3 separate regions of the Homo sapiens genome follow, and regions 2 and 3 are each reported to be linked to region 1. The links are microRNA targets in miRTarBase. Many come from high-throughput screens and were not tested one by one. Region 1 holds a microRNA gene; each other region holds the end of a gene's coding sequence.
What was found. The annotated mature microRNA hsa-miR-4509 reads ACUAAAGGAUAUAGAAGGUUUU and lies in region 1 at 1,254-1,275, shown strand. An mRNA with a match to its seed (bases 2 to 7 or 8) in the 3' UTR can be bound and repressed. Matches are read on the target gene's strand: a 7mer-m8 pairs with bases 2 to 8, a 7mer-A1 pairs with bases 2 to 7 and ends in A, and an 8mer does both.

Region 1 (3,268 bases):
AAAGCCCTGAGTCGGAATCATGTGGACTTATTCTTAGAACAGCATCGAGGAAGCCATTATAGCTGGAGTAGAATGAGAAGGGGGAAGAGTATTAGTAGATGGTGGCAGAGAAATAAACATGAGAAGACGGATGATGGAACGAGCACCTTGTACGTCATTTTAAGGACTTTGGCTGTTCCTCAAACTGACATGGGACCATTGAAAGATTTTTTTATTTTTTATTTTTTAAATTTAACTTTTAAGTTCAGTGGTACACGTGCAGGTTTGTTATGTAGGTAAACTTGTGTCATGGGGGTTTGTTGTACGGATTATTCTGTTACCCACATGGTAAACCTGCTACCCACTAGTTGTCTTTCCTGATCCTCTCCCTCCTCCCAGCTTTCACCCTCCTTTTCAAAATAAGACATACATGCAGCCAACAAACATAGAAAAAAAGCTCAGCATCACTGATCATTAAAGAAATGCACATCAGAAGTACAATGAGATACTATCTCACACCATTCAGAATGGTTATTATTAAAAAGCCAAAAAATAACATGCTGGCAATATTGTGGAGAAAAGGCAACATTTCTACACTGTTGGTGGGAGTGTAAATTAGTTCAGCCATTGTGGAAGACAGTGTGGTGATTCCTCAAAGACCTAAAAGAACTACCATTCGACCCGGCAATCCTATTACTGGGTATACACCCAAAGGAATATAAATTGTTCTGTCATAAAGACACATGCATGCATATGTTTATTGCAGCGCTATTCACAGTAGCAAAGGCATGGAATCAACATAAATGCCCATCAATGGTAGACTGGATAAAGAAAATGTGGTATATATACACCATGGCATATTATGCCACCATAAAAGATGAGATCACGCCCTTTGTAGGAACATGGATGGAGCTGGAAGCCATTATCCTTAGCCAACTAATGCAGGAACAGAAAACCAAATGTTCCCACTTAGAAGCGAGAGTCAAAGGGGAGAATACATGAACACGTAGAGGGGAACAACATTGAAAGATATAAGCAAAGAAGTGATATCATCTGAATTGCATTTCTGAGATTTCTCTGGCACTTGTGTAAAAAATAGCTGAAAGGAATCAACGGCAGAAGCTGGGAGACCAGTTAGGGAGCTTTTGCAATAACCATAAGAGGAAATATGTGTGGCTTAGACTAGGAATCGTCAGGTTGGGAGTGCTCATTCAAATGTGGTCAGAATCCGGACATTTTGAGTGAGCCTACAGAAAGCTTTAATACTATCTCAAACTAAAGGATATAGAAGGTTTTCCCTTTCTCTTGCCCTGAAACCTTCTGTATCCTTTATTTTGAGATAGTATTAGAATTCTTACTATCTTACTGACAATTCTCACTATCTTGTTTTATAACTTGGAACATGATTATAATTATAGTATTGTTAAATATTTTATTTTTATTTTATAATTATACTTTAAAAATATTATTTTGGTAAATAATCATAAAATATGAAAAATAAATCTTTCCATTAACTGAATCAATTGTCCCCTTGCAGGATTTTGGCTTCACAACTTCCTAATCCTTGAAATATTAATTTTGATTATTTTTCTAATATGTACCCATATGTCTTTGAGTAAATTTTTATTGGAAGGACAAATCAGTGCTGGATATACAGATGCCATTGCTTCGTACTCAGGTAAAGACAACCTGATATTTATGATCCTCTTGATCATATTTTTATTCTCTTAAAATCTTTATGTCTTCTAATAATGTTAACAGAGAAGAAAAAAAGTCTTATCTAAGCCTGACTTTTTATTTTTAAGGAAGTTTTTTTATTTATTTGTAAAATTCAGGAGTTTGGCTAGTTGTTATTTAAATATGGAGAACTCTTCCTTGTTTCTTCCCCCTCCCTGCCTAGAAGCTGGTTGGTGCTTTTATTATTCGTACTTCAGTGATAGCTTTGATTATTGTTTCAGATCTCCTTGCCCTTGTGTCTTTCCCCAGTACACAAACTATTCTCGAGGTGGAACCTGTGGTCTCTGGCATACCCATCCGCCTTCTTCTCTGTCATTAGTTCATCTCTTCCTTTGCCCTCCAGAGCTCTGATTCAATTGCTGCTTGAACTTTTCAGTGTGTCAGTTTCTTTCTCCACGGATTTCCCTGTGGATGGAAAATCTGCCCTTGCACTTTAGTTTTCATAGAAGCCTCATCTCAGCTATCTCCCATTTTGTGATATGAGCCTCTTTTGTTATTGTAGCCTTCATCTCCTATTTCCTAAATTCCATGTGTTTCTACATACTGTTCATAGACAAATAGTTTAAAGCAATGGTCTATAGTTTCTTGTGGTTTGAAAGTCATATATTTTTAAATACGTTTTCTCCCCCTGAGAATTCAGCATACAGTTTCATTTTTCTTGTACGCAGGATGATTTTTAGGATTTTTTTTCTGTTATATTTTTTCCATTCTGGTTACCTAGAAGGTAGTGATTATTACCCCAAACCAGGGTTTGATACTGTGTTAGTCCACTTTCATACTGCTATGAAGAAATACCTGAGACTGGGTAATTTATAAAGAAAAAAAGGTTTAATGGACTCAGTTCCACGTGGCTGGGGAAGCCTCACAATCATGGCAGAAGGCAAAGGAGGAGCAAAGACATGTCTTACATGGTGGCAGGCAAGAGAGAGAGCATGTGCAGGGGAACTCCCCTTTATAAAACCATCAGATCTTGTGAGACTTATTCGGTTTCACAAGAACAACACAGGGAGAAACCCATCCCCATGATTCAGTTACCTCCCACTGGGTCCCTTTCATGACATATGGGGATTATGGGAGCTACAATTCAAGATGAGATTTGGGTAGGGACATAGCCAAACCATATCATTCTTCCCCTGGCGCCTCCTGAATCTCATGTTCTCACATTTCAAAATCAATCATGCCTTCCCAACAGTCCCCCAAAGTTTTAACTCGTTTCAACATTAACTGAAAAGTCCACAGTCCAAGGTCTCATCTGAGACAAGTCCCTTCCACCTATGAGCCTGTAAAACTAAAAGCAAGTTAGTTACTTCCTACATACAATGGGGGTACAGGCATTGGGTACCCCCAGTGTATCTACACCTGTTCCAGATGGGAGACATTGGTCAAAACAAAGGGGCTACAGGCTCCATGCAAGTCTGAAATCCAATAGGGCAGTCATTAAACGTTAAAGTTCCAAAATGATCTCCTTTGACTCCGTGTCTCACATGCAGGTCACACTGACGCAAGTGGTGGTCTCCCATGGCCTTGGGCAGCTCTGCCTCTGTGGCTTTGC
Region 2 (3,000 bases), not on the chromosome of region 1:
GATAGTTGGCACCACATGGTGCCACATTGATTTTTATCAGGTAATTATTTTTGTCAGGTAATGTGGGGTGATACAGTAATGGATAACAACTACAAGTACGTTATGCTAAATGGGTCATGAAACACTTTAAGAAGGACAGAAAGACATACCAAAAAAAAAATGAGAGACAGTGTCTCACTCTGTTGCCTAGGAGTGCAGTGGCACAATCATAGCTCACTGTAGCCTCTTAACTCCTGGGCTCAAGCAATTCTCCTGCCTCAACCTCCCCAGTAGCTGGGACTACAGGTGTGCACCACGCTTGGCTTTTTTTTTTTTTCGAGATGGAGTCTCACTCTTTCGCCCAGGCTGGACTGCAGTGGCACGATCTTGGCTCAATGCAAGCTCCGCCTCCTGGGTGCACGCCATTCTCCTGCCTCAGCCTCCCGAGTAGCTGGGACTACAGGTGCCCGCCACCGTGCCCGGGTAATTTTTTGTATTTTTAGTAGAGACAGGGTTTCACCGTGTTAGCCAGGATGGTCTCGATCTCCTGACCTCGTGATCCACCCGCCTCGGCCTCCCAAAGTGCTGGGATTAAAGGCGTGAGCCACCGCACCAGGCCTACCAATTTCTTAAAAACTTTAGTAACAAGACTGCAGTAGAAATTGCTATATGAATGTATAGGGTTTGCTCATTTGAAGTAAAACCATTATGACAAACCTGAGAATATCAATTTACTACCATTAGCAAAAAAGAATAACCATTTATTGGCTGGGTGAGCACTCCCAACACTTTAGGAGGCTGAAGTGGGAGGATCACTTGAACCCAGGAGTTCAAAACCAGCCCGGGCAACATAGGGAGACTCACTCTGTACAAAAAATTTAAAAATTAGCCAGGTGTTGTAATCCCAGCACTTTGGGTGGCCGAGGCAGGCGGATCACGAGGTCAGGAGATCGAGGCCATCCTGGCTAACACGGTGAAACCCTGTCTCTACTAAAAATACAAAAAACTAGCTGGGCATGGTGGCGGATGCCTATAGTCTCAGCTACTCGGGAGGCTGAGGCAGGAGAATGGCGTGAACCCAGGAGGTGGAGCTTGCAGTGAGCCGAGATCACACCACTGCACCCAGCCTGGGCGACAGAGTGAGACTCCGTCTCAAAAAAAAAAAAAAAAAAAAAAAAATTGGCCAGGTGTGGTGGCACTTGCCTGTAGTCCTAGCTGCTTTGGAGGCTGAGGTGAGAGGATTGCTTGAGCTCAGGAGTTGGAGGCTGCAGCAATCCATGATTGTGCCACTGTATTCCAGCCTGGGCAACAGAGTGAGACCCTGTCTCAAACAAAACAAAACCCACAAAACAAAAAAGAATAACCATTTATTAAAGTAGATACAGAACACTTGTTTGGCCAAATTTTAATACTGCTTTACATGTTTTCTGTTTGTGAAACAATTCGTATTACATTTATAACCAAAAATTTCAACTGGTACCAGATTGAATATTCACTGTCGAACACACAGTTGATAATCTTGAGGGGAAAATACATCAAAGGCATATATACAATTATAGAAGTTCTTATTGTACATGTAGCATGGAAGATACATTTTATGACTTTTTACATATTCTAGAAGACATTCAAATGAAGATAAATAGATTCAAACTGGTCGATAAACTGTTCAGGTGCTTTGAGGTCCTTCATTTTCTTTTTTGTGATAAGAAAATCCAGAATTATTAACGTTGAATTTCTCATCGTACATTCATCTAAAAACAGTAAAAAAACTTGTGAAGGGAGATTGTAGATTGGTTATTTAGGTGTTTTATACTGGCTTATTGTTAATTGACTGCTGGGGATACCTGCCAGAGAAGGAAAAAAAAATTGGAGAAAATTCCTCCAGTTATTTAAATCTGGTGAAGAAATAAAAGGAAAACAAACAAATGAAAATGGTTGCAAAGCCACAAGATGCTATGTCTGGCCTAGTCTGTTATGTCCTAATGATCATTTTAAGTGTTTTCTTTTTCAAAAAGGTAAATGTCCAAAAAGAAAGACACATTGTGTATGTTTTTTTCCCAAAATATAGATTTTTAAAAAATATATACATACAATATATAGAAGCTGAAATTATGCAAAACTAATAAACAAAACACCACAGTAGATTAAGTGGGTGCAGCATATAGATTATAAAATGTCCCCACAGCAGTTTGGGGGCTTGCCCCTCCCTTTACCTGCTTCATGATTTTATAATCACACCTAAGTATTATCAAGCCTGAAGTAAAGGCACTACTGATAACAGGTAGTGCAAAGAGCTCAGATATTTCTTTGAATAAGAATAAAATACTTTAAATGAGTAGATGAAAATGCAAAATGGCACATTTTTTCAACTCATTCCAGTGTCAAAGCTTAACCAAAAAATCTAAATATACAAATGCAGCCTGGAAATATCTTAGTGCAAATATGAAAAGTAACGGCATAATTTAAAGTTACTTAAATAAGGTATTGTGAGGGTAGGGGTTTTTCTACAAGGTCGGGGGGCCAATAAATGTAATGGCATCTGGTGCAATGTCTTCAAACGTAAAAATCAAGAAAACAAAATTCGAGGTGAAAACTCACCTACTAAATATTTATTATTCTAACTCATACGGGGAGACTAAAGGGCAATTTGTTGAAGATCAAAATATTTTCCTAGATTTGTTGACGGGGTTAAAAAATAACATGAGTTCTCCTGAAGTCTGCACACACAATGCTGGTGTTACGTTGTGTCAATGCGAGTGCGTCTGAGCAAGCCCAGTTCTCCACTGGAGGCTTCATCAGAAGGTTTCGTCGTCATTGCAGTTGGTGGCCCAGTGTCCAAACATCTCACAGATTTCACAGTATGGGCGTTCCTCACCCCGACTGCCATGGTGTGTGGAATGGGGAGGGTCCTCTGACATCTGTGCCTGGGTAGGACAATCCTCTGTGTCGTGGAGATCAAAGCAGTCACAAATGTCACAGAAGAGGCGAGGTTTCTTCTTGGACTGTTTCTCCTGATCATCA
Region 3 (3,000 bases), not on the chromosome of region 1:
GATGCAACTGGGAACCTGGTATTTGCCAATGCGGGAGGAGCCCCCAACATCGTGACTGCCCCTCTGTTCCTGAACCCTCAGAACCTCTCTCTGCTCACCAGCAACCCTGTTAGCTTGGTCTCTGCCGCCGCAGCATCTGCAGGGAACTCTGCACCTGTAGCCAGCCTTCACGCCACCTCCACCTCTGCTGAGTCCATCCAGAACTCTCTCTTCACAGTGGCCTCTGCCAGCGGGGCTGCGTCCACCACCACCACCGCCTCCAAGGCACAGTGAGCTGGGCAGAGCTGGGCTGCCAGAAGCCTTTTTCACTCTGCAGTGTGATTGGACTGCCAGCCAGGTTAATAAACTGAAAAATGTGATTGGCTTCCTCTCGCCGTGTTGTGAGGGCAAAGGAGAGAAGGGAGAAAAAAAAAAAAAAACCACACACACCCATACACACATACCAGAAAAAGAAAGAAAGGATGGAGACGGAACATTTGCCTAATTTTGTAATAAAACACTGTCTTTTCAGGATTGCTTCATGGATTGGAGAACTTTCTAACCAAAAATTAAAAAAAAAAAAAAAAAAAGAAACAAAAAAATCAAAAACAAACAAAAATAAGTGAAAGGACTACTTATCATTTCCAGCAGTCATGATGACAAGTTAAGGTGGGTTACCAATTCCAATATAGGAAGGGGATTTCTTGTTTGTCTAAATTTCTTTTTTTCTTAAAAAAAAAAAATCATTTTTATGGGTCTGTTGTACAGGCCATTAAGTCATAACAAGGTGTTTATAATCGTATCAATTGTGTTGGGGGTTCCTTTCTTAACTGGTACAATTTAGGCAGGCCTGTATTACTGTATTATTATTGTTGTTGTTGTTATTGTTTTATATATATAGTTTGGACATGTTTATTATCTCTTGCTCCTGGATCCTATTTCAGTGAGCTCCCACACTGTGGGGAGGGAGGGTTTTGGGGTAAGGGGAGACTTCTGTTCTTAACTGTGGGGAATGTTCTTGCTGGTTTCCTTATCCTTGATGACTCTTACAGAGGTGCTAGAAAATTATTTTCTTTTGCCACTTATGCAAGAGGCTTGGTGCAGAAGCTGAAGGCAGTGTGTGCAAACACTCCCATTCCACACACGCCCCTTCCCCTCCCCACATCAGGTGGTGCCTTTGGAGCACTTTTGTGTAGGAAGGAATTCCTGCTGAACTGTAGCTCTCACTCACCCCCAAATCATTGAATGACCCTGAGGCCCAGTTCCTGTGGTGCAACAGTGCTGCTTTCTGCTACTTTCAATGGGAACAGCTGTACATGTTGCAGGGCAGGATTTGGTTCCCAAGAGCAAAGACTACTGCAGACACCTGACTTGGTGGTTCTCCTGATTTCTTATCTCCTGAAAAATGCTCCTGCTGTTGGTGTGTTTGTTTGTTTGTTCCATTTTGTGGAAGTTTTTCATCCAAACTTTAACTAACTTGGCAAAGAAAAAAAACTGACTTACTGAAATTGGGAAACTTTTCCCTTCTTTTATTTTCTAAAGGAATTCTACTAGACTATTTTCCATTGATAATATATACAAAAGAGGTGTGATGAGAAGGGTATAAGGTTACCACCTTTTCCTCTAGAGAGCCACAGACTTCCTTTCCACTGGATGGTTTATAAATTCCTCTAACCCTGAGATTCTTCTTGGTTCTCTGACTAAAGGAGGCACTTATTAGCCGGGCTGGGATCTGTAGAACCTTTGAAGAAGGACTTTGAGCAGGAACTTTGCACACACCTTAAGTGTCTCCTTGGTTTGTTCATGATGCTCCTGCTAGGTAGGTCTAAATGGCAATACACATCTCTTTATTCAATGTAGAAAGTAATTAGCTCTGTAATTATTTTCAGGGTGTTTGTAGACTATATAAATGAGCCCATTGAAAAGGAAGAGTTTGTGAAAGTGGATGAAGAGGAATAAGGGTAACTTGGAGATTAAATTCCTTTTTTTGTCAGTGTACTGTTGTTATGCCATCTGTACCAAAAAATTTTCCAAAAGACTGGATCACTGCAGTGCAGCTCATCTAAGTTCCCCTTCTTATTGGAGTTAAAGGTTCCCATTTGGTGGCTGTGGGTGCTTGCTTAAATCTCTGGTGGTCCCAAGACTGCACTTTTTCTCCCTTTCGAGCTGGGGATGTAGAGAGAACTTACAGGTGATTTTTATTCTGATTGCTTTTGTTTGTGTCCACAAGGGAGCTTGGATTCTGTGTACTTGTCTCTTTCCCATTGTCCAGTAAGGCAGTAAATACAGACACAATGTGTACTTTTGTGTGTGATTCAAGTGGGAGACAGTCTGTTAAAAGGTCAGAAACATTTTAGTCCCCTTTAAAATATTTCTTTTAGTTTATTTCTATCGTGTTTTATTTCACAGATATTTAATTACCACCCCTAAATTTCCTCCTCTTACCCTTCACCTTCCCTAAAATCCTTCCAAAATCAGTGAACTGCAAGCAGGGAAACTAACAAATGTCCATTCACCCTTTTTGTGTGGTGTGTTTTTTTATGTTTTGTTTTGTTTTTTAACTAAGCTTGAACCAAAGTCAATTTTTAGCAAGCTGCTGTACTAATGGACTAGTTGATAACGTGCAGTTCAGACACATCGAGGAGATAGATGCTACTGACAATTTCTTTTTCATTTGTCTTTATTAATTTTATATGAAAGTTGCTGCTTGTTTTTAATCTTTTATGTTGGTAAATTGTGATATCCTCTGGGCAGACATTAACTTGATGTTTAACTAGTTTATTAGGTTGGTGTGTAAATAGAATGACAATGTCAATTACTAATTTCTCTCCTCTCCATTCACTTTTTCTCTGTTGTAGTTAAATTTAATCTTCTATCCTGACTTGACATCTCTACCTTTAGTCTGTGGAAATGATTTTAGGGCTATCAGTAATGCTGTAGCTGCCCATAATAATGAGTCCCTCCCTTGGGAGTGGTGAAACTTAGAAGGAAGGATTCAGGGAGGGAAATGCTGGTACCCAG

Region 2: the mRNA of CLIP1 is a reported target of hsa-miR-4509. Seed matches in the 3' UTR shown: 7mer-m8 at 2,615-2,621.
Region 3: the mRNA of POU2F1 is a reported target of hsa-miR-4509. Seed matches in the 3' UTR shown: 7mer-m8 at 2,874-2,880.

What each region holds. Positions count from the first base shown.
Region 1 is chr15:23,196,591-23,199,858 of GRCh38, forward strand. It overlaps MIR4509-1 (microRNA 4509-1), which reads left to right and starts at 1,237; the gene lies at 1,237-1,330.
Region 2 is chr12:122,270,101-122,273,100 of GRCh38, forward strand. It overlaps CLIP1 (CAP-Gly domain containing linker protein 1), which reads right to left. Exons shown (of 26, transcript NM_001247997.2): 26 at 1,369-3,000. The coding sequence ends at 2,775. Among named protein-coding and RNA genes, the nearest start is that of VPS33A, 5.1 kb to the left of the region's middle.
Region 3 is chr1:167,415,538-167,418,537 of GRCh38, forward strand. It overlaps POU2F1 (POU class 2 homeobox 1), which reads left to right. Exons shown (of 16, transcript NM_002697.4): 16 at 1-3,000. The coding sequence ends at 273. Among named protein-coding and RNA genes, the nearest start is that of CD247, 100 kb to the right of the region's middle.